3 linked regions of the Homo sapiens genome follow. The protein of the gene in region 3 interacts with the protein of the main gene of each other region in a pairwise test. Each region holds a gene or a part of one and is shown on either strand. Other genes may lie near its edges.

Region 1 (7,055 bases), on a different chromosome or scaffold from region 3:
AGCTGAGGAGCAAGGAGAGCCAGTCCAAATCCCAAAACTGAAGAACTTGGAGTCTGATGTTCCAGGGCAGAAAGCATCCAGCACGGGTGAAAGATGTAGGCTGGGAGGCCAGACCCATCCCTCCTTTTCATGTTTTTCTGCCTGCTCTATATTCCCTGGAAGCTGGTTAGATGGTGCCCACTAGATTAAGGGTGGATCTGCCTTCCCCAGCCCACTGACCCAAATGTTAATCTCTTTTGGCAACACTCTCATAGACATACCCAGGATTAATACTTTGTATCCTTCAATCCAATCAAGTTGACACTCAGTATTAACCATCACACCTCCAAATGAGGAAACAGTGTGAACAAAATATTCACCTAAAAGAAGCTGTGATTTGTAAATAAGCAACTGACAGCATATTCGGCCTCTCTGGTAATCAAAGAAAATGCTGACACAAATAACTATGTATGTTTCTTTTCTATGGAATTAACTATGATTTTAAGTTTGCTGTTTAATTCTGGCAAGAGACTCTGAGATAAACACTGGTACTCTTGATTGGGAAGAAAGTAAAGGTCACAGCCAGAACTTATGAATGTATCAAAAGCTTTAAATGCATTTGTAACCTTTGATTGAGTAATTCTGCTTGTCAGAATATACCCTAAGGAAAAAATTATGAAATCCAGATATTTATGTTCATATGGTTATCACAGCACTATTCAACCAGCAAAGAAAATGAAACAACCTAGTAATTAAAATGAGTTAAAGAGCTTTTCTACTTTTACATGAGAAAATGCTCATGACATAATGTTTAGTAGTAAAAGCTCAGCACTTGAAATCACGTATTCAGTAAAATCTCAAGAGTATAAAGCAAATATTCGTAAATGCATAAAAAAGACTAAAGGTAAATAACCTTAATGTGCTGGAGATTGCAAGCAATTCTTAGGGTTTAGGTATCTTTTTGGCTTTTTCTTTTTTATTTTTTCTTTTTGCACAAAGAGCATGTGTTACTGTGATGAGGGGCAAAACCTTTCATTAAAGGCCCAAGCAACATCTACCTACCACCATCTGTAAGGGCTCACCCAGGAGACAGCAACAGCAGCAGGGGACCGCCAACTCCACTCCCAATAAGGAACTAGCACTGAGGATTTGGAAGGCAGTTTCCCATGAGCAGTTTCTTCCCTGAAGAGGAAGAGAAAATTCATCTCCAGGACTGGATCATACCATCTCACATCTTGGAGGGCTCTGCAGCTTGTATCAGCCACAGACAGTCAATGAAGACACAGCTAGAACCGTCCATCCCGGCTGCACTGCAGAGCAAGTTCTTGTCACTGTGCTGAACTTCTGGGTTCTCATCTTTACAATGGACTCTTGGCAATACTCCGTTTAAGAGTATTTATGGGAACTAGACAAGATAAGAACTGGTTTATTATTGCAAGATATAGCTGAGTTTTTTTTTTAACTTCATTAATAAATATCCAACACATGAAGACACACTAATAATACATTTCTTGACTTATGTCAGACTGTTACCATATAATTAAATTTTTCACATAATTATTTTCCCTTCTTAAGAGTCATTTATTTAACATTAGACACTTTCATAGTTAAATTTTCTAAAATATGTCAAATGTTTCCCTGTTAGCTAATTTGCTACACACTAAGACACACTATTTACTTTCTTTTTCAAATGACTTGGGGTCCTTACTATGAACAAAGTATGTGTTAGAGGAGGAAGGGGGCCAATATCTTTAAGTAACTCCAGTGTACTCTCATTGTAATTACCTCTTTAATTATTATCGAATATATTACTCACAACAGCCTAACTTTGCAGATTGCTCCAATTTCCAGGCTGAGAAAAATGAGGCTCAGAGAAAGAAAGTGAAATGCTGAAGGTTACGCAGCTAGTAGGCAGTAGAGTAACTAACCCAGATTGAGTTCCAAAGCCCTGTGGTCTTTAATAGCGCAAGGAACTGTCACATCCTCCAGTGATGGCTGGAGCTGAGATTGCTTTAGTTCTGTAACAAATGCTACTTCGTTCTTGTATCTGACCTCTGCAGTTTGTGGGGCTTTCAATTTTCACTGTTTAGTTCGTTAGTTTATTAATTTTTGGCTTATTTTCTGTAAGGAATTCTCTGCAACATTTTGATGCCTTCAACCTGTCTTACCCTAAGAAATTAAGGAAATCTCTTATGATTACGTCTAAGGCCAGTAGGTTCTAAATGAGTCTGTAAAAGTGACTTCTCTAAGTGTGCTGCAATGACCTAATGACTTGTCCGTTGTTACCTGGCAGAACTTTCTGCTTCTTTCCAACTTTCCAGCTGCATTTCAGATAATTAAAGTTATTTTCTCTCAGGACAGAGGAGCGGGACTACTGTTCCACGTAGACGTATGTGTATGTATTACCAAAAAAAAAAGTTAAACTGTTAAAGTAATCACGGGTGCAGTGGCTCACGCCTGTAATCCCAGCACTTTGGAAGGCCAAGGTGGGTGGATCACCTGAGGTCGGGAGTTCGAGACCAGCCTGACCAACATGGAGAAACCCCGTCTCTACTAAAAATACAAAATTAGCCAGGCGTGGAGGCACATGCTGGTAATCCCAGCTACTCGAGAGGTTGAGGCAGGAGAATTGCTTGAACCCAGGAGGCGGAGGTTGTGGTGAGCCGAGATCACGCCGTTGGACTCCAGCCTGGGCAACAAGAGCAAAAACTCCGTCTCAGAAAAATAAATAAATAAATAAATAAAAATAAATTAATCATTACTCATTGCTGTTTATTAAATGCCTTTTCTGTTCCCACTGTGATTCTACAATCACTGCCTCTGTAAAACCCCGGAATGCAGGTGTTCTTGCCTCCATTTTATAGATGAGGAAATCAAGACTCAGGGCTTCCCCACCAGGCCAAAGGCATTCTGTGAGTAGTTTATTTCAATTCAACATGGCTGTGCTGCACATGGCAGTTGGAGTAAAGATCTATCAGCATCGGGGGTTCTTCATGATCTAACTAAAGTGAATCATGAGTGCTTTCCCACTGCGTCAAGAAGGCCTGGAGTTTGTGCAGCCCGGCTAGAGGTGAGCAAAGCCTCTGTGTTGCAAATCTCCAGGGCGCAGCCTCTCATTGTATTCAATGCAGATGACAGTCCCAAAGGCACCGCCCATACATTGTACAGACAGCTGGCCTGGCTCTCCGGATTGTGCAGGATAGGCCTTAATGGCAGAAGGTAGGGGAGAGGTGGGCGTCACAAAAGTGCTTGGGGAACTATAAAGTAAACAATGAAAAGCAGCACAGGAAGGTTCAGACATCACACAGGAGAAGCACAGGGTGTTCCCCTGGGTGGGGATTTAAAACAAGGGCCTCAAGTTCCCTGCCCTTGTCTCTGGGCAGAAGGGGCAGATAATGCTATGATACATTTTTTGTAGGTGGTGCCATTTGACTGCATTTAACCAACAAAGGTATGTATCGAAATCCACGTGGAGATTTTCATGGCAAAAGTAGAGCGAATTCACAAACTGCACTGTGTCTGGCAGCTTCAGACAAAAGCAATGGGAACAAATCACGACTCTTGTCCAGCAATTCTTCCTGTTTTGGAATGATCTTTGCTCAACAGCCCATCCATGAGTACAGGGCCCCCAAAGGCCAACAAGACAGGGACTCTCTCCAGGGACAAATGCCCCGCAGCTGAGAGAGGCCGCCCAGCTATCCAGCGGCCGCGCAGCCAGCCAAGATTTCAACACAGGTCTGCCCTATTTGGTCACCATCCCCGACAGTGCTGGGCCAGGCCATCATGTCACATTGGGGAGTTTTCCCTGCACTCCAGGGGGAATTCTCAACCACAACCTCTGTATCCGGTAGTGGCAGATGGAAAGAGAAACGGTTAGAAAAGCGTGGTTCTTGCGCAGGAAAGTTGGAGCAAAGAAGAGTTCAGAAGTGGGCGGGTGTGTGTTTAAAAAAAAAAAAGGGGGTGGAAACCCCACCAGCCAAGTCTGCAGAAAAAAAATAAATGAAGTCTGCCTATCTCCGGGCCAGAGCCCCTCCCCTCGGCCCGCGCGGGAGGAGTGTGACCCAGGTGCCGCTTCCTCTCGCCGCCGAGGGTCAGGAGCCCGGGAGCGCGACCCTCCCCCGGCCCGGCCTGGCCCGGCCTGGCCAGTCCCCGCGGTCTCTGCCCGGGCTGACGCCCAGGAATGTGGTCGACGAGAAGCCCCAACAGCACGGCGTGGCCTCTCAGCCTCGGTGAGTACCCGCCGTGGGGAAGGGTCCTGGGGACCCACTGGAGGCCGCGGCCCGCAGCAGCCAGGGGCCGAGCCACGGCCACGGACGCCCTGGTGTCCCGGTCCGTGCCGGGCCTCCAGGCGGAGGAGGCGTCCGCTGGGCTCAGATCCCCGACTCCAGCCCCGGTTCCCCGGCGCCTGGGCTGCGCGGAGTCCCTGTCCCGCGTCCCGGACCCCTACGCGCAGCCTCCACGCGCTCCGAGCTGGAGAAGCCGCCAGCCCGCCCTCCCAGGGCGTGTCGCCCGCTTTCTGTTTCTTTGTGCGGGGCATGTGAAATGTGTGGGGCCAGAATTGTCTCCCTAAAGAACAGTTAGGTGAGAGTTCACATCACAAGTTGCTTCTGTGCTGCTCCCCAGCCAGGGTCCGACCGGCCAGGCTCCGGTGAACTCCAGGCAACTCCAGCCTTGCCCAGGGACTTGCTCGCTCCGCTGGGCGCCGCAAAGGCACACAGATGCGAGGGAATCCTGCGGCCTGGATCCTTTGGGGATTTGTAATTCCTCGCTGCTGGTTTTCTCTTTTAAACCATCACGTTTTCTTGCTGAGAGGAAATCATCTGTGATGAAAGTCTTTGTAGATGCTTGGAAACATTGCTGGGCCTCTCTCTGCCCTCTTCCTCTGCCGTTGGACTTTTGCAATAAAAACTACCATTTGATTTTACCAAAAAACGTAATGTACATCCCTCTTACCCCCACCCTGCCGCGGTCTGATTCTTAGAGTCTGTCAGAGAGGAGATACCCTGAGCCTATCATGTGACAATGATACCTTATTGATATGATAATGATATGGGTATTGGAGACACCAACTCTTTTATAAGTCTTTGAAATCCAGGGGGTTGTGAGGCCTCACCCCTCACCCCGCCTGAGCTTGGAGCTTGGCGTGGAGGAGTGCTGCTTCGGTCTACGTGTGTACACGGCACTCCATGTGCCTGTGGTTGTGCTTGCGTCAGCCTGGGAGTGCGCAGGCATCAGTGGTGCTTGGGAGCGAGGCCCCTCAGTCTGCACTGGGATCATCTGCACTGCCTATAAACAAGGCAGCCTCTCTTAGCTCCAGTTTCCTCATCTGCAAAGTAGGAAAGTAGGAATAATAACAGGAGATAACTCATCCAGCAGCACGAAGTGCGTATAAATGTCCCGGCACGGAGTCTGACACATCCTAAGTGCTGGATCCGTGCTGGGCATGTTTATATAATTGCACATGAGACTGTGGTTCCCGGAGCACGTAACTTGAGCATATGTTTATGTGTGTGTATACGGCAGGTCCTGGGTTAAAGGGACAGGAGCCACTGTCATTATTCCAATTCAGTCACTGAGGAGGTGAGGCTGAGAGGCATTCTCATGTCTGAAGAGGATGGGCTTGCCTGACCCCCGCCCCCGTGCCCAGCCCAGCCCAGCAGCCCAAGCAGTTCTCCAGGACTCAGGTTTCAGACCTTCAACACTTGCCTTGGGAGACAAACAGCGGTGCAGCCCTTGCTTGCAAGCCATTCCACATTAGACTTCGGATTGATTTATGGCAGGATCCCTGCTGTGCGAGAACTGCAGGGGGGGTGGGGGGCGGCTATTTCTTGCTGCTAACTCAGGCAGGATGTGTCTATATCCTGTCTCAGTTTATGTAGCTGCTCATCAGAGCCAGAGGTTAGAGCGGAGAGGACCCACTTCCGCCAGGCCGGCCTGCTCTGCTCAGCTCAGCTGGGCTAGGCCCCAATGCCACAGTTACTGCGCGTGAGTCATGCACAGCAATCCATTGCCTTGCCCTTGGATGGAAGGGGTCAAGGCTCAGTGAGAAGACGGCCAGGTTTGGCAGCTTTATATAGAATTCACCGCCTCTGGCAGAAGCAGAGGATTGCATTAAGTGCCAAATGAAATTCCACCTCAGCCATTGCTCAATTCCTCCAGATGTCACTGGCACTGGGAGTCACATGATGCTGGTGGTCAGCAGCTGGACCCTTCCAAGGGTGCCCGTGGTTGGGCAAGTATTTCTGGGGACTTGCAGAGCTCCCTGGGGAGCAAAGGGTTGTGAAGTACAAGGCATTCTGCGCTTGTGGTGGGAACAAGTGAACCCATCTGCAGTGAGTAGGAAGAGGTCCCCTCAACAGAGGTGAGAGGTTGGGCCAAGTCAAGTCAGTTTGCCTCTTCAGGTGGCAGACCTGTATGTACATCTATGCCTCAAGTGCCTGTCTGAGGCCACAGCCAAAACATCTTCCAGTAACTGAGCATACCCAGTGGGCCAACAAGCACGCTCTAAATACAAAACCAAACAAACAGTAAAGTTAACAGTGAATGAAGAGTTAAAAATAGGAGAAAGACACCTTCTCCCTACCTCAATGGCAATTACTTTATTTATTGAGGATAATCCTTCTAGAAGTAAATTTGCTGATACAAATATTTCTTATTTTACATAATAAAAATGCATTTTATATATTTTACTTCATCTTGTTTTTTTTCCATCAGAATATCTCTTAAAGGTTATACCTTGTTATTTTCTTTAATCAGTTCCTCTGCTGATGGGCATTTAGGCTGTATGCAGACTTCATTTAATTTTTTTAAACCACACACAGCAGTCCTGTGACAATGAGTAAGGAGGATTTTACATGCATGTGTCTGTAAACTGTTAGGATAAATTCTCCCACCTCAGCATTTGATTTCTGGGACAAAGTGTGTATTCATTTAAAATGTTAGTAGATCTTAAGAAACTACCCTCCTAAAGGTCACACCGGTTTCTCATGCTCACAAATAGCCTATGAAAGTCACTATTTCCCTGCGTCCTCACTCACACTGCATTTTTTATCTTGGCCAAACTGAGAGGTAAAACA
Region 2 (7,023 bases), on a different chromosome or scaffold from region 3:
GTAACAGTAATAGCAGGCCTGGTGCAGTGGCTCACACCTTGTGATCCCAGCACTTTGACTGGCTGAGGCAGAAGGACTGCTTTGAGCCCAGGGGTTCAAAGTTGCAGTGAGCTATGATCGTGCCACTACACTCCAACCTGGGCAACAGAGCGAGACCCTGTCTCTTTAAAAAAAAATAAATAACAGCCAAGCAGGAACCCGCATCCAGGAACACAGCCCTTTGCTCCTCCCTCAGAATGAATGGAAACCAGGCTGGGCGCGGTGGCTCACACCTGTAATCCCAGCACTTTGGGAGGCCAAGGCGGGCGGATCACGAGGTCAGGAGATCGAGACCATCGTGGCTAACATGGTGAAACCCTGTCTCTACTAAAAATACAAAAAATTAGCCGGGCGCGGTGGCGGGTGCCTGTAGTCCCGGCTACTAGGGAGGCTGAGGCAGGAGAATGGCGTGAACCCAGGAAGTGGAGTTTGCAGTGAGCCAAGATCGCGCCACTGCACTCCAGCCTGGGCGACAGAGCAAGACTCCGTCTCAAAAAAAAAAAAAAAAAAAAAAAGAACGAATGGAAACCAGAAATCAGATATTTATGCCCAAGCAAAGCAGGATTTCGTTCAGCACTACTCCCAGATCGTTAGGGTGCTGACTGAGGATGAGATGGGGCACCCAGAGACAGGAGATGCTACTGCCCGGCTCAAGGAGGTCCTGGAGTACAATGCCATTGGAGGCAAGTATCACCGAGGTTTGATGGTGCTAGTAGCGTTCCGGGAGCTGGTGGAGCCGAGGAAACTGGATGCTGATAGTCTCCAGTGGGCACCGACTGTGGGCTGGTATGCGCAACTGCTGCAAGCTTTCTTCCTGGTGGCAGATGACATTATGGATTCATCCCTTACCTGCCAGGGACAGATCTCCTGGTATCAGAAGCTGGGCATGGGTTTGGATGCCATCAATGATGCTATCCTTCTGGAAGCATGTATCTACTGCCTGCTGAAGCTGTATTGCCGGGAGCAGCCCTATTACCTGAACCTGATGGAGCTCTTCCAGCAGAATTCTTATCAGACTGAGATTGGGCAGACCCTCGACCTCATCACAACCCCCCAGGGCAATGTGGATCTTCGCAGATGCACCGAAAAAAGGCACAAATCTGTTGTCAAGTACAAGACAGCTTTCTACTCCTTCTACCTTCCTGTAGCTGCAGCCATGTACATGTCAAGAATGGATGACAAGAAGGAGCACACCAGTGCCAAGAAGATCCTGCTGGAGATTCAAGAGTTCTTTCAGATTCAGGATGATTACCTTGACTTCTCTGGGGACCCCAGTGTGACTGGCAGAGTTGGCAATGACTTCCAGGACAACAAATGCAGCTGGCTGGTGGTTCAGTGTCTGCTACAGGCCACTCCAGAACAGTACCAGATCCTGAAGGAAAATTACAGGCAGAAGGAGGCCGAGAAGGTGGCCCGGGTGAAGGCACTATACGAGGAGCTGGATCTGCCAGCCGTGTTCTTGCAGTATGAGAAAGACAGTTACAGCCACGTTATGGGTCTCATCGAATAGTACGCAGAGCCCCTGCCCCCAGCCATCTTTCTGGGGCTTGTGCACAAAATCTACAAGTGGAAAAAGTGACCTAGAGACTGCAAGGGCGGGGAGAGAAGGCTCTCAATAAGTAAATTATTGTGTAAAATAAATAAATAAATGAATAACAGCAATGGCTACCAGGTAAAGGTTTACCAGGCACCAGGCACCGTGCTAAGCCCCTCCACCTGACTAGTAATTCTCGTTGGTCCTCACAACTGGGGAAGCGGGATATTTCCATACCACAACTGAGAAAAGTGAGTCACCAGAAGACATGCAGCTTGCCCAAGGATATCCAGGGACTGAGAAAACCCAAATCTGTTTCCAGAGTTCCTGTCTTTCCCACCAAGACAGACTGACGACGGACAAACTGGCCTGTAGATGTGTTTTGCTTGGGTTACTAAGGTTTGGCTTTTAAAAACTGAGCTGATGTTTAAAAATTGGAATATTTGGCCGGGCTCAGTGGCTCACACCTGTAATCCCAGCACTTTGGGAGGCCGAGGCAGGCAGATCATGAGGTCAGGAGAGCGAGACCATCCTGGCTAATGCAGTGAAACCCTGTCTCTACTAAAAAATACAAAAAATTAGCCAAGTGTGGTGGCGAGCGCCTGTAGTCCCAGTTACTCGGGAGGCTGAGGCAGGAGAATTGCTTGAACCTAAGAAGTGGAGGTTGCAGTGAGCCAAGATTATGCCACTGCACTCCAGCTTGGGCGACAGAATGAGAATCCGTCTCAAAAAAAAAAAAAAAAGGAATATTCACAGTAAAAAAAAAAAAAAAAAAAATCTAGATTTCAAGCTTCCCTTGAAAATCAGGAAAGATGGCAATATTTGCAGGCTGGACCTAGATCCATGATCTACCTAGCAACACCAGCTAAACTGCAATGGTGGCTGGAACGTCCTCTCTGGGTGGCCACAGCTACCATGACTCCCTATGGCTAGGGCCAGCATGCTTTTCCTGTAAAGGACAGAAAAAGTCTTTGCAGTGACTCTGCCACTAGACCACAAGAACAACCATAAACAATGTGTAAACAGGAGGGGTTGCATACCAATATAACTTTATGAACAAAATCAGGCAGTGGGGCTGAATGCGGTAGCTCACGCCTGTAATCCCAGCACTTCGGGAGGCTGAGGTGGGTGGATCATTTGAGGCCAGGAGTTTGAGACCAGCCTGGCCAATACAGTGAAACCCCGTATCTACCAAAAAAATACAAAGATGAGCCAGGCGTAGTGGCGTGCACCTGTAGTCCCAGCTACTTGGGAGGCTGGGGCAGGAGAATCACTTGAACCCAGGAGGCGGAGGCTGCAGTGAGCCGAGACTGTGCCACTGTACTCCAGCCTGGGCAACAGAGTTAGACCCTGCCTCAAAAAAAAAAAAAAAAAAAAAATGCTGGGCGTGGTGGCTCACGCCTATAATCCCAGCACTTTGGGAGGCCAAGCGGGGGTGGATCACCTGAGGTCAGGAGTTCGAGACCAGCCTGGCCAACATGGTGAAACCTTGTCTCTACTAAAAATACAAAAATTAGCCAGGCATGGTGGCTGGTGCCTGTAATCCCAGCTACTCAGGAGGCTGAGGCAGGAGAATTTCTTGAACCTGGGAGGCGGAGGCTGCAGTGAGCTGAGATCGTGCCATTGCACTCCAGCCTGGCAACAGAGTGAGACTCCATCTCAAAAAAAAAAAAAAAAAAAAAAAAAAAATGGCAGTGGGCCAGATTTGGCTGAGGGTCCATCGTTTGCAGACCTCTGCCCTGTGGCCTCCCTCACATCTATTACTGTACTTTCACACTCCTACAGTTGAGCAATACTTCTCTGAACTCATGTCTCTATCAAAAAGTGAGAGAGTGCTCTGCCTCTGGCTAGCTTTGCCAACAACACGCCCTGCCCTCTGCAGACATGTCAGCCTTTGCCCAACACCTAAGGGTGAAATACAGCATCCAACAGCACAGCAGGCAGCATGCCAACAGCACCCGCCCCTGGGAAGCCCCAGGTGCTCCCCAGAGCCACACCGGGCGTTGATAACATTCTCTGCATCCGGGAATCAGGCCCTGGCCTCCCTCTCCCCTCCTCCCCTCCTCTCTCCATTCCCCCCGGATCCTCAGGATCTGTTCCCATGGCTTCAATATTCCCTTGCATACAGATCACCCAAAGCTGTCCTCGGGATGCCCTGCCCGAGCCCCTCAAACCGTCAGCTCCTGCCATCTGGACCTCCTGGCAGTGCCCAGGGCAGGTCAGGATGTTTCATGCCCTTCGTCCCCCACTGAGAATGCCCATCGCACTTGTCCACTTACTCATCTCTTAATTCCTAGCTCAAGACTCTGCCCTGTGAGATCTTTCCTAAGTTCGCTCCCGCTCCACAGGCAGAAGTGGCCACTTCTAACAATCAATGCCCACATGACGTCTCAGTGCCATTATCTGTCTCCTCCACTGGAGAATGCATACGCTCCTTAAAGGCAAGGGTTATGTTCAGGAAAAGACTTCAAACCAGACCCAGAAAACTGAGTACTAGGGAAAAAATACATTTCGCTATGTTAAAATGAAGAATGGCTGATCAACAGAAGACACCTTAAAGAAAGAGGAATAATAGGTTAAAAGCTGGGAGAAGATATTTGCAATAGACACGAAGGATTAAAATCAGCAATATATAAAGAGCCCTATAGATCAACAAAAAATAAAGCACCAAGAACCCTAATGAAAAACTGGCAAAAGACATGAATATTTCACAGGAAACACATATGCCAATAAACATAAGAGGAGATATTCAGCAGCAGGGCTCAGGGACCTAGAAACCAAGTTCCCAAAGATTCCATTTTCTACCCATTCACTTGGCCAACAGCAAATGTTGGTAAGACTGTGGAGCTGCAAGACACAGGACACTGCTGGTAAAGTGGATACTGGTATAAGCACTACATTCAGGAAATGGTCTAGCAATAGCTACGAAAGATGAACACTGCCGAGCATGGTGGCTCATGTCTATCATCCCAGCACTTTGGGAGGCCAAGGCGGGTGAATTGCTTGAGCCCAGGAGTTCAAGACCAGCCTGGGCAACACAGTGAAGCTGCCTCTGCACAAACTTTAAAAATTAGCTAAGCATGGTAGCCTGTGCCTGTAGTCCCAGCTATTCAGGAGGCTGAAGGGGATGGATCCATTGAACCCAGGAATTTGGGGCGGCAGTGATCCGTGATTATGCCACTGCACTCCAGCTGCCTGGGTTACAAGGTGAGACACTGTCTCTAAAAAAAGAAAGAAATAGGCCAGGCGCGGTGCCTCACACCTGTAATCCCAGCACTTTGGGAGGCCGAGGCAGGTGGATCACCTGAGGTCAGGAGTTTGAGACCAGTCTGACTAACATGGAGAAACTCCGTCTCTACTAAAAATACAAAATTAGCCGGGCATGGTGGCGCATGCCTGTAATCCTAGCTACTCCGGAGTCTGAGGCAGGAGAATCGGGAGTAGCTTGAACCCGGGAGGTGGAGGTTGCAGTGAGCCGAGATCGTGCCATTGCACTCCAGCCTAGGCAATAAGAGTGAAACTCTGCCTCAAAGAAAAAAAAAAAAGAGACAGAGAAACAAAGAAATACACATGTAAGATAAAACTAAGAAAAAAATGAAAGAAAGGAGATAATGATTACCTCAGGGTAAGAACAGAAAACAAGTTCAAATGAAATGATTAGATGTTCTAAGGGGACCTGATAAAGTAGAAAACTTTTTAAAGTTTTTTAAAATTAAAAAAAAAAGATTAGATATATACTTTTGTTTCATGATCCCAGCTTTTGTTTTGGGTGCCTAGATTGCCAGAGCTTACTACATTTATTAAAAATAACTTACTAAATAAGGAAAAGTAGGTCAGGCATGAACACTGAGGAGTGTGTACTAATCAATCTTGTTCTCAGCTTAGCTGATAAGGCAAACACCAAAGAGACTGCTGAATTCATCTTTGTACTCCAAGTGCCAAACACAAGCCTCGGCGCACAGAATTTCGGGAGGCATTTGGGGAATGAATCAGGGCTCTTCTCTCTAGCCCATGGCCTCATTTCCTGTTGGCCTCTTAATACCTTCAACACGTCTGAGGCCAAACGCATCTTCCTTCCTCATTCTCCTTTTCCCCCTGGATTTCCCCCAGGCGGCCAAGAGAAAAACCTCAGATTCTCAGTCCTCCGCAGCCCGCTCCCCCAGGCCTAGCAGCTGCCTGCCCTGCTCTCTCCTCACCTCTGAAGCCCCCTGCTAACACCTGGCCGGGACCCTTATGCCTCTCACTTTACCCCCTCCCTGCCGGGCGCAGTGGCTCACGCCTGTAATCCCAGCACTTTGGGAGGCCTCGGTGGGTGCATCACCTGAGGTCAGGAGTTCGACACCAGCCTGGCCAACAGAGGGAAACCCCGTCTCTACTAAAAATACAAAAATTAGCCAGGCATGGTGGCAGGTGCTTGTAGTCCTAGCTACTTGGGAAGCTGAGGCAGGAGAATCACTTGAACCCGGGAGGTGGAGGTTGCAGTGAGCCAGGATGGCGCCACTGCACTCCAGCCTGGGTAACAGAGCGAGACTCCATCTCAAAAAAACAAAACAAAACAAAAAAACAAATAAGTGCTCCCTCCCAAACAGCTTCTCCAACTCTGCTTTCTAACCCTCTTGTACATCTCAGATGGGGGGGCAGAAAAGATTAAGCTTCCTGAACTAACGTTCTGATCTTGTCTTTTACACACCTCCCCTGGATCTCTAGAATGAAATTCAAATTCCTTAGGCTGACAGTCAAAGCCGATCACAATACCGCCCTTCCCTCGCTATCAACAATATTTGCCGGTGCCCTTCCCTTCCATCCCCTCATCTATACCTCCCTCTCCACAATTCCCTTCCAGAGTGTAAATGAGGATCCACTACTCCCATGTGCATCAGCGTGTCTGTCCCCACCCCCATGACTCTGCTTCACCCTGAATCCCACCCACTTGGTCCCCTGTCCTCACCTTACCCACCCTTTTATGGCCCAATTTAAACAGCACTTCCCACGATGCCTGGATGTGCCCAGCAGAAAGCAAACACCCTCTAAATCAGCCAGGCATGATGGTGTGCACCTGTAAGTCCAGCTACTCGGGAAGCTGAGGCACAAGAACCTCTTGAGCCTGGGAGGTGAAGTTGAGCAGTGAGCTGAGATTGCACCACCGCTCTCCAGCCTGGGTGACAGAGTAAGACCCTGTCTCAAAAAGTAAACAAACAAAACAAAACAACAACAACAAAAAGAATGAAAGAAAACACCCTCTTAGCAAGTTCCTTTTCAGTTCTCTATGTTCACTTTATCTCTTCAACTAGACTATAAGCAACTGAGGGCAAAACCACTCACCTGCCTCTCCCCACGAAGAAGCTGGCATGATGTATGTAAGAAGACCGCCACAAAGCGAATAATCCAGTCTAAACCCATTCCACATGTTCCAGTGTGCTCCATTAAAATGTCCCTCACGAGGCCAGGCA
Region 3 (6,958 bases):
TTACCATGTTGGTCAGGCTGGTCTCAAATTCCTGACCTCGTGATCCACTGGCCTCTGCCTCCCAAAGTGCTGGGATTACAGGCATGAGCCACCACACCCGGCCACACAGAACATATTTTATCCATCCTACTATTTGTAGCCACTGGAGTTGTTTCCAGCTTAGGATTATTACAAACAATGTTGTATGCTGTATTCTTGTACATCTATATTGTTTATACATGTGCAGGAGTTTTCCTAGTATGTATACATATATAGAATTGTTGTAGGGTATATGCATCTTTTCTAGATAAAAGCAGCCAGGCATAGTGGCTCACATCTATAATCCCAGTACTTCGGGAGGCTGAGGTGGGAGGATCACTTTGAGTTCAGGAGTTTGAGACCAGCCTGGACAACATGGTGAGACCCTATCTCTTAAAAAAAAAAAAGCAAACCTTTTTGTTACTTTTCAGTTATTTTTTCATATTTATAACCCAAGTCTTTTAAGGAAAAGATCATGCCTTAAACCATTCTCAATGATTCCCTCTCGGAGGCCCATCACTAAAATGTATTTGCACAAGGTACTTAATTTTTAACCAGTGACAGTGACAGATAAGATTCAAACCAGGTTTCCTCTCCACCTACCTCGGAGGCAGGCCACACCTGCCAGAAGTAGCAGCAATGTCCCAGCATAGTGAGAAAACGGCACCACTTTGGACAAACTCAAGTAACCTGGGAAGGGAGAGGGACAATGTGAGACCCTCTCCGCAATGTCCCTCAGCTCCTCTTCCCAGTTCAGCCCCAACCTCCACCCCACACTCCCTGTTTGGAACAGCCATACCCTAAGAGGAAGAAGATGCCTGATGGAAGAGGGAAGCCAAGCCATCTTCACAGGTCCCCTCTCCTCTTTAGGGAGCTGGCTCATCTGCCAACAACCTGCCCATTTGCTACCCCACCACCTTTGAAACCACACTGACCTTTCCTGTACAAGTAGAAGAAGGCGAAGGGAGAGGAGTAATAAGAGATGGACCAGAATACTGAAGCCTGCAGCAGAGAGACAGGGACAGGCAATCAATACACACACACACACACACCTGCCATTCCAGGCATATACTATACACTCTGAGCAAGATGGACAACCTGAGGGATATCATATCATATTTGGTGTATGACACCATGAATACAGTAGGTGCTCAGTATTTGTTGAAAAGTAGTGTGTCAATGTAATGGAGGCTGGGAAAATTTGGTACAGGCTCTATTTTCTTCCTCTGGAATTATGGAAGAATTATGTCTTCCATCTCCAGACATAATTCCATCACATTTAAAGGCAGTCTCTCTGTCTACTCAAGTTAATCAAGCCTTTTCAATTGGCCCTGCTCAGGACAGCCCCTGGCCTGGTCCCCAAGAGATGCGCAAACGTCACCACAGGAACTGTGCCAGAAAGAACAGCTGTCCCTGCAGCCAAAGAGGTTAGTTGCCAGGGAGGACAGGTCACTGGGGAACTGCAGGACTTAGCACCTGCAGATGGTCCCAAGAGTAAACATGTTTTCCTTACGGCTCAGGTTGCCCCCAGAGAAAGCAGTGCTACATACCAAAGGGGAGTGCCAAGTATGCACATTTAGAGTGTGCCTGTGTGTCTGTGTTGGAGAGGTCTGCTGCAGAGCCCAGGGCATCCCCCAACCCCAGGGCACTGTTGCTCCCAAGTTAGGGAGGGCTAAGTTCAAGAGGACAGGTGGGTCTGAAAGATGCAGAGTCCCAGATGCCAGGGTAGACATACCAGTGCCAGGATGCTGTCAGCATGTTTCTCCAGGGCACGGGGCTGATAGTACGTATCCTGCCAAAACAGATGGCCTCCTTAAGGACCCTGCCCACTGGCAGGTCCTTTCCCTTCCCTTTCAGAAGCCCTGCTGTGTGTCCTCTGGTTCTAGTCTCGTTGACTATCTCTCTTGAAACATCCCTGGCCCCCACAGAAACTCCTCTTCCTCACCCTCACTCTGAACCTAATTTCCCACCCCTGACCATGGGAACAAACACAGGGAGCTGGATTTGGAAGCAAAAGTGAAAGCAGCATTGGACGATTTTTGCTCCTTTTCCACAGCCTAGTTTCAAATGGATTGCAGGCGCGTGCATGTGGGGAGAAGGGTTAGTTTGAGAAGAAAGAAAAGACACCTAGACAATCTAAGAAGGAAAGAAAAGCATCAGAAATAAGAGTAGTTGACTAAGAAGAGAATGTGGGTAGGAGCGGGCAGTTTGTAGGAGACAGTAACACAATGAGACAACTGATAAAAAGGAAGAGAATATTTAGAACAGCCTACCACCACCCGCCAGCTCTCCAGAATACAATGACTCGGGTCTCCAGGCTAGGTTGGGCGGGGGTTGAGGGGAGGACCGACGGATACAGGATCTGTAAAAGTCATTCTGAAATTCAAGGCGAGGGTAAAGGGAAGATAAAAACAGAGCCGGGGGAGGCATGAAGAGGCACTGAAGAAGAGGAAACTGGGAGTCTGACAGCAAAATTCAACGGCTCCCCAGTCCGCGCAGGGTCTCTTCCCGGGACTCAAGACTCAACTGGGACCGGCACGAACCACGACACACAGGGTCGGGGGGACGCGGAGAGGAAAGAACAAAGAGTGGCAGTCGGAATGAGAAAGCGGTAAAGAGCGAAAAAGAAAGGAGGCGGCCAGTCCGTAGGCGTGACTTTAACTCAGGAAGCACACAGAGCGCAGATTTTGCGGATAACTGGCTTGACAAGCAGGCTCCCCTTATTTCCCATTATGGGCACTTCTGGGGAGCAAAAGGCCGTAAAGGGTTTGGACTGTACCACGTTCTTCGGTGGGGAGGAACTCGACTCACCCAGGAGCTGGAATGGGGGGCAGTGACTGCCGTTGGCGTCTCAGGGACGCTGGCCGGGGCCCTTTCAGAGTCCCTCTCCCGGTAGATTTTGTAGAGCCGGGGGCCTAGGACGCAGCTCAGCAGCTTCGCCATGGCCCCGGCTCGGGCCGCTGCTCTTCCAGCAGCAGGTCCCCCTGCCGGCCCCGCCCTCCCTGCCTCTGAGGTGTTGTGTGCCCTTGACGTCAGCCCGTACCGGCTCCGCCTCCGGGCGAGTTGCGACATTTTCAGTGCTTCCTGAGAAGAGTTTCGCGCAGTTGGAGCTACGGGTACAGCAGTGGTCCGAAACTAGTGGAAGACCACTAGAACGCGGAGAATCAGAAAATTACCGGGCATGGTTCAATAATTTTTTTCTGTCTCATTATTGGCAGACTCTAGAGCGACAGCGGAAACGAGGGGTGAGATTAGGAGTACTTGATAAGAGTAACCGAAAACATAAGGTGTCTAGGAATGTATCTAGTACAAGAAATGCAAGGTTTTATGAAGAAAACTATAAAAAGTTATTGAAAAGGCAAACTGGCCCGGCCCGGCGCAGTGGCTCACGCCTGTAGTCCTAGCACTTTGGGAGGCCGAGGCGGGGGGATCACTTGAGGCCAGGAGTTCGAGACCAGCCTGGCCAACATGGTGAAACCCCATCTCTACTAAAAATACAAAAATTAGCCTGGCATGGGTGGTGCGCGCCTGTAATCCCAGCTACTCGGGAGGCCGAGACGCGAGAATCGCTTGAACGCGGGAGGCAGAGGTTGCAGTGAGCCGAGATCTTCCCACTGCACTTCAGCCTTGGTGACAGAGCAAGACTCTGTCTCTAAATAAATAAATAAAGGTAAACTGGCCCAGCGCGGTGGCTCACGCCTGTAATTCCAACACTTTGGGTGGCCGAGGGATGATTGCTTGCGTCCAGGAGTTCCAGGCCATGGCTCATGCCTGTAATTCCAACACTTGGGGTGGCTGAGAGAGGATTGCTTGCGCCCTGGAGTTCCAAGCCAGCCCAGGCAACATAGTGAGACCCCATCTCTACACAAAATACCAAGGGGGAAAAAAAAAAGACCTAGCAGGGTGTGGTGGTGCCCACCTGTAGTCCCAGCTACTTGGGAGGCCAAGGTGGGAGGGTCGCTTGAGCCCGGGAGTTTGAGATCGCTCCATGCACTCCAGCCTGGGTGACAGAGCCAGACCCTGCCTCAAAATAATAACAATAATAATTGAAAAAATAAAAAAAGAAAGAGGTAAACGAAAAGCTTTTCAATAAATGGAAAGCTACACCATGGTCCTGGATACGAAAATTCAGCACAGTAAGATATGCGGAATATTTGTAAAAAGAAAATAAATGAATCATTACTGTTATGCATGAACTGGATCTTAAAACCATGATGCTGAGTGAAAATAGAAAGCCACAGAAGAATGTATACGTGATACTAGTATATTAGATTCAAAAACACATAAAATTTAATGATAAAGCAAGTGGAGAAGAAAGAGAAAATTCAGAATTGTGGTTACACAGCATAGAGGATCTCTGACTGAAACGGAATATTCTTTTTTTCTGTTTTTTTTTTTTTTTTTTTTTGAGACAGGGTCTAGCTCTTTCACCCAGGCTGGAGCACAGTGGCACAATCACGGCTCACTGCCCTGATCCTCCACCTGCTGGGCTCAACCATCTTTCTGCCTCAACCTCCTGAGTAGCTGGGACTATAGGCCCACACCACCATACTCGGCTAATTTTACAAGGTCTCACCATGTTGCCCAGGCTGGTCTCGAACTCCTGGGCTCAAGTGAACCTCCTGCTTTGGCCTCACAGAGTGCTGGGATTACAGGCATGAGCCACTGTGCCTGGCCTGGAATATTCTATTTCTTTTTCTTTTTTTTTTTTCGAGACCGAGTTTCGCTCTTATTGCCCAGGCTGGAGTGCAATGGCCCGATCTCGGCTCACCACAACCTCTGCCTCTGGGGTTCAAGCGATTCTCCTGCCTCAGCCTCCCAAGTAGCTGAGATTACAGGCATGTACCACCATGCCCTGCTAATTTTTTTATTTTTAGTAGAGATGGGGTTTCTCCATGTTGGTCAGGCTGGTCTTGAACTCCTGACCTCAGGTGATCCGCCTGTCTCATCCTCCCAAAGTGGTGGGATTACAGGCATGAGCAACCGAGTCCGGCCTGGAATATTCTATTTATTTATTTATTTATTTATTTATTATTTATTTATTTTTTTGAGACGGAGTCTCGCTCTGTCACCAGGCTGGAGTATAGTGGCATGATCTCTGCTCACCGCAGCCTCTGCCTCCTGAGTTCAAGCGATTCTCCTGCCTCAGCCTCCTGAGTAGCTGGGACTACAGGCATCCACCACCACACTCAGCTAATTTTTGTATTTTTAGTAGAGACAGGGTTTCACCATGTTGGCCAGGATAGTCTCGATCTCTTGACCTCGTGATCCGCCTGCCTCAGCCTCCCAAAGTGCTGGGATTACAGGCGTGAGCCACGGCGTCTGGCCTTTATTTTCAGAGTTGGGGTCTTGCTCTGTTGCCCAACCTCAAACTTCTGGCTTCAATCAACCCTCCCACCTTGGCCTCCAAAAGTGTTAGGATTGTAGACATGAGCCACCATGCCTGGCCAGGCTTCTTTTACTCTCATTATATTGTGAGATTCAACTTTGTTGCAAATCACTAGGTTTGTTCATTCTCATTGCTGTCCAGTCTTCTACTCTGTTAAGCATTTATCCATTATATAGTTGTACTTCATATAGTTTTTGGTATGTATGGAATATTTCATCAAAATAATTTTAAAAATAAATAAATTACACATTAAAACTGTAATAACTGCATGAAGATCTGCCTTAGGAGTTTTTGCCGTTCAGAAGGATGAATCAGCCCGTTAGCCTTGTCCCTGAGTAATAATTTAATACACTTATTAGGGTTTCAGGAGAGGTCCGGGGTATGCCAGACAACCACAGGGAAAGTCATTCCAAATCATTTACGGGACACTGACTCGATACACAGTCTTGTGCTGGGTTCTGTGGAGGACCAACATAAAAACTCAAACTCAGTTTCTTCACTCATAGCTGACATTTCTTTTCTTTTCTTTTCTTTTTCTTTTTTTTTTTTTTTTTTTTTTTTTTTGAGATGAAGTCTCGCTCTGTCTCCCAGGCTGGAGTGCAGTAGCACGATCTCGGCTCACTGCAACCTCCACCTCCCGGGTTCAAGCGATTCTGGTGCCTCTCAGCTTCCTAAGTAGCTGGGATTACAGGCACATGTCACCACGCCTGGCTAATTTTTGTATTTTTTGTAGAGACAGGGTTTCGCCATGTTGGCCACGCTGGTCTCGAACTCCTGACCTCAAGTGATCCACCCAACTCATGGCTGACCTTTCTTAGGAGTGAAAGAGACCTCAGAATGTACTTCCAGACTGACAAGAGCTAGACAGGCAGGACCACTTCTCTGCATGGTTTTTTGCATGGAAAGTCTTTATTTGAGCCCCTTAGCTGATGTGGAATCAGAAGAGCAAAAAGGTCATCTTCAGAGTGGCCTGGGCTGGGTCCTTTTCTCTCCAGGATAGAAAAGTGGTGGTCACTTTATCCCTAGTAGACATGCTGCTGGGCTTTATCGCCCCAGCATTCCCATCCCCTCCAGAGCCCCTTGTCACTCCAGACCAGCGAGTGTGGGCCTTTATCTGGACTCTGCTTCCTCCCTGGGGACACCAGGTCTTGGAGCAAGAGAACTTGGCAGGCTCTCCCCATGGCAGTCTTATTCCTCCTCCTGTTCCTATGTGGAACTCCCCAGGCTGCAGGTAAGGGGCAAGAGGTACGGGATTCCTTAGCTATTTGCAAGGTTGGGGAGGGACTACTGCTCTTTCTCCTAGGAGCCTGGCGAAGGCATCTGACTCAAGAAGATAGAATTACCCCAACCAACCTCCTCCTGCCTCTGACACTAGGGAAGACCCAGAGGCAACGAGGGTCCAGGTTATGCAGTTTCCTTTATAAAATAAGAAGAATGAGTAAATGCTTCCAGAAAAGTAGAAATGAGTAGAAGAGATGTGGGCATTTGCCAACTTTCAGCCTTTTCCCTCTTGCCCTCAGACCCCCTCACTGGCTGGGGGAGAGAGGAGGA

What was found. The genes of interacting proteins can lie anywhere in the genome.
Region 1: the proteins of ABHD16A (region 3) and GYPC interact in binary tests that used the Homo sapiens proteins (3 or more experiments, as listed by UniProt).
Region 2: the proteins of ABHD16A (region 3) and DTX2 interact in binary tests that used the Homo sapiens proteins (3 or more experiments, as listed by UniProt).

What each region holds. Positions count from the first base shown.
Region 1 is NC_000002.12:126,652,105-126,659,159, forward strand, and holds the start of GYPC (glycophorin-C), read left to right. Parts: upstream 1-4,053; 5' UTR 4,054-4,159; coding exon 4,160-4,208; intron 4,209-7,055. UniProt on the Homo sapiens protein: This protein is a minor sialoglycoprotein in human erythrocyte membranes. The blood group Gerbich antigens and receptors for Plasmodium falciparum merozoites are most likely located within the extracellular domain.
Region 2 is NC_000007.14:76,464,688-76,471,710, reverse strand, and holds part of DTX2 (probable E3 ubiquitin-protein ligase DTX2), read right to left. Parts: intron 1,692-7,023; exon of another isoform or gene 1-1,691. UniProt on the Homo sapiens protein: Regulator of Notch signaling, a signaling pathway involved in cell-cell communications that regulates a broad spectrum of cell-fate determinations.
Region 3 is NC_000006.12:31,700,321-31,707,278, forward strand, and holds the start of ABHD16A (phosphatidylserine lipase ABHD16A), read right to left. Parts: upstream 3,005-6,958; 5' UTR 2,962-3,004; coding exon 2,830-2,961; intron 2,639-2,829; exon of another isoform or gene 2,449-2,638; coding exon of another isoform or gene 2,292-2,448; intron 1,811-2,291; coding exon 1,754-1,810; intron 1,021-1,753; coding exon 954-1,020; intron 772-953; exon of another isoform or gene 709-771; coding exon 622-708; intron 1-621. Other genes in the region: LY6G6F-LY6G6D protein precursor, read left to right, coding at 6,587-6,638; LY6G6F (lymphocyte antigen 6 complex locus protein G6f precursor), read left to right, coding at 6,587-6,638. UniProt on the Homo sapiens protein: Phosphatidylserine (PS) lipase that mediates the hydrolysis of phosphatidylserine to generate lysophosphatidylserine (LPS). LPS constitutes a class of signaling lipids that regulates immunological and neurological processes.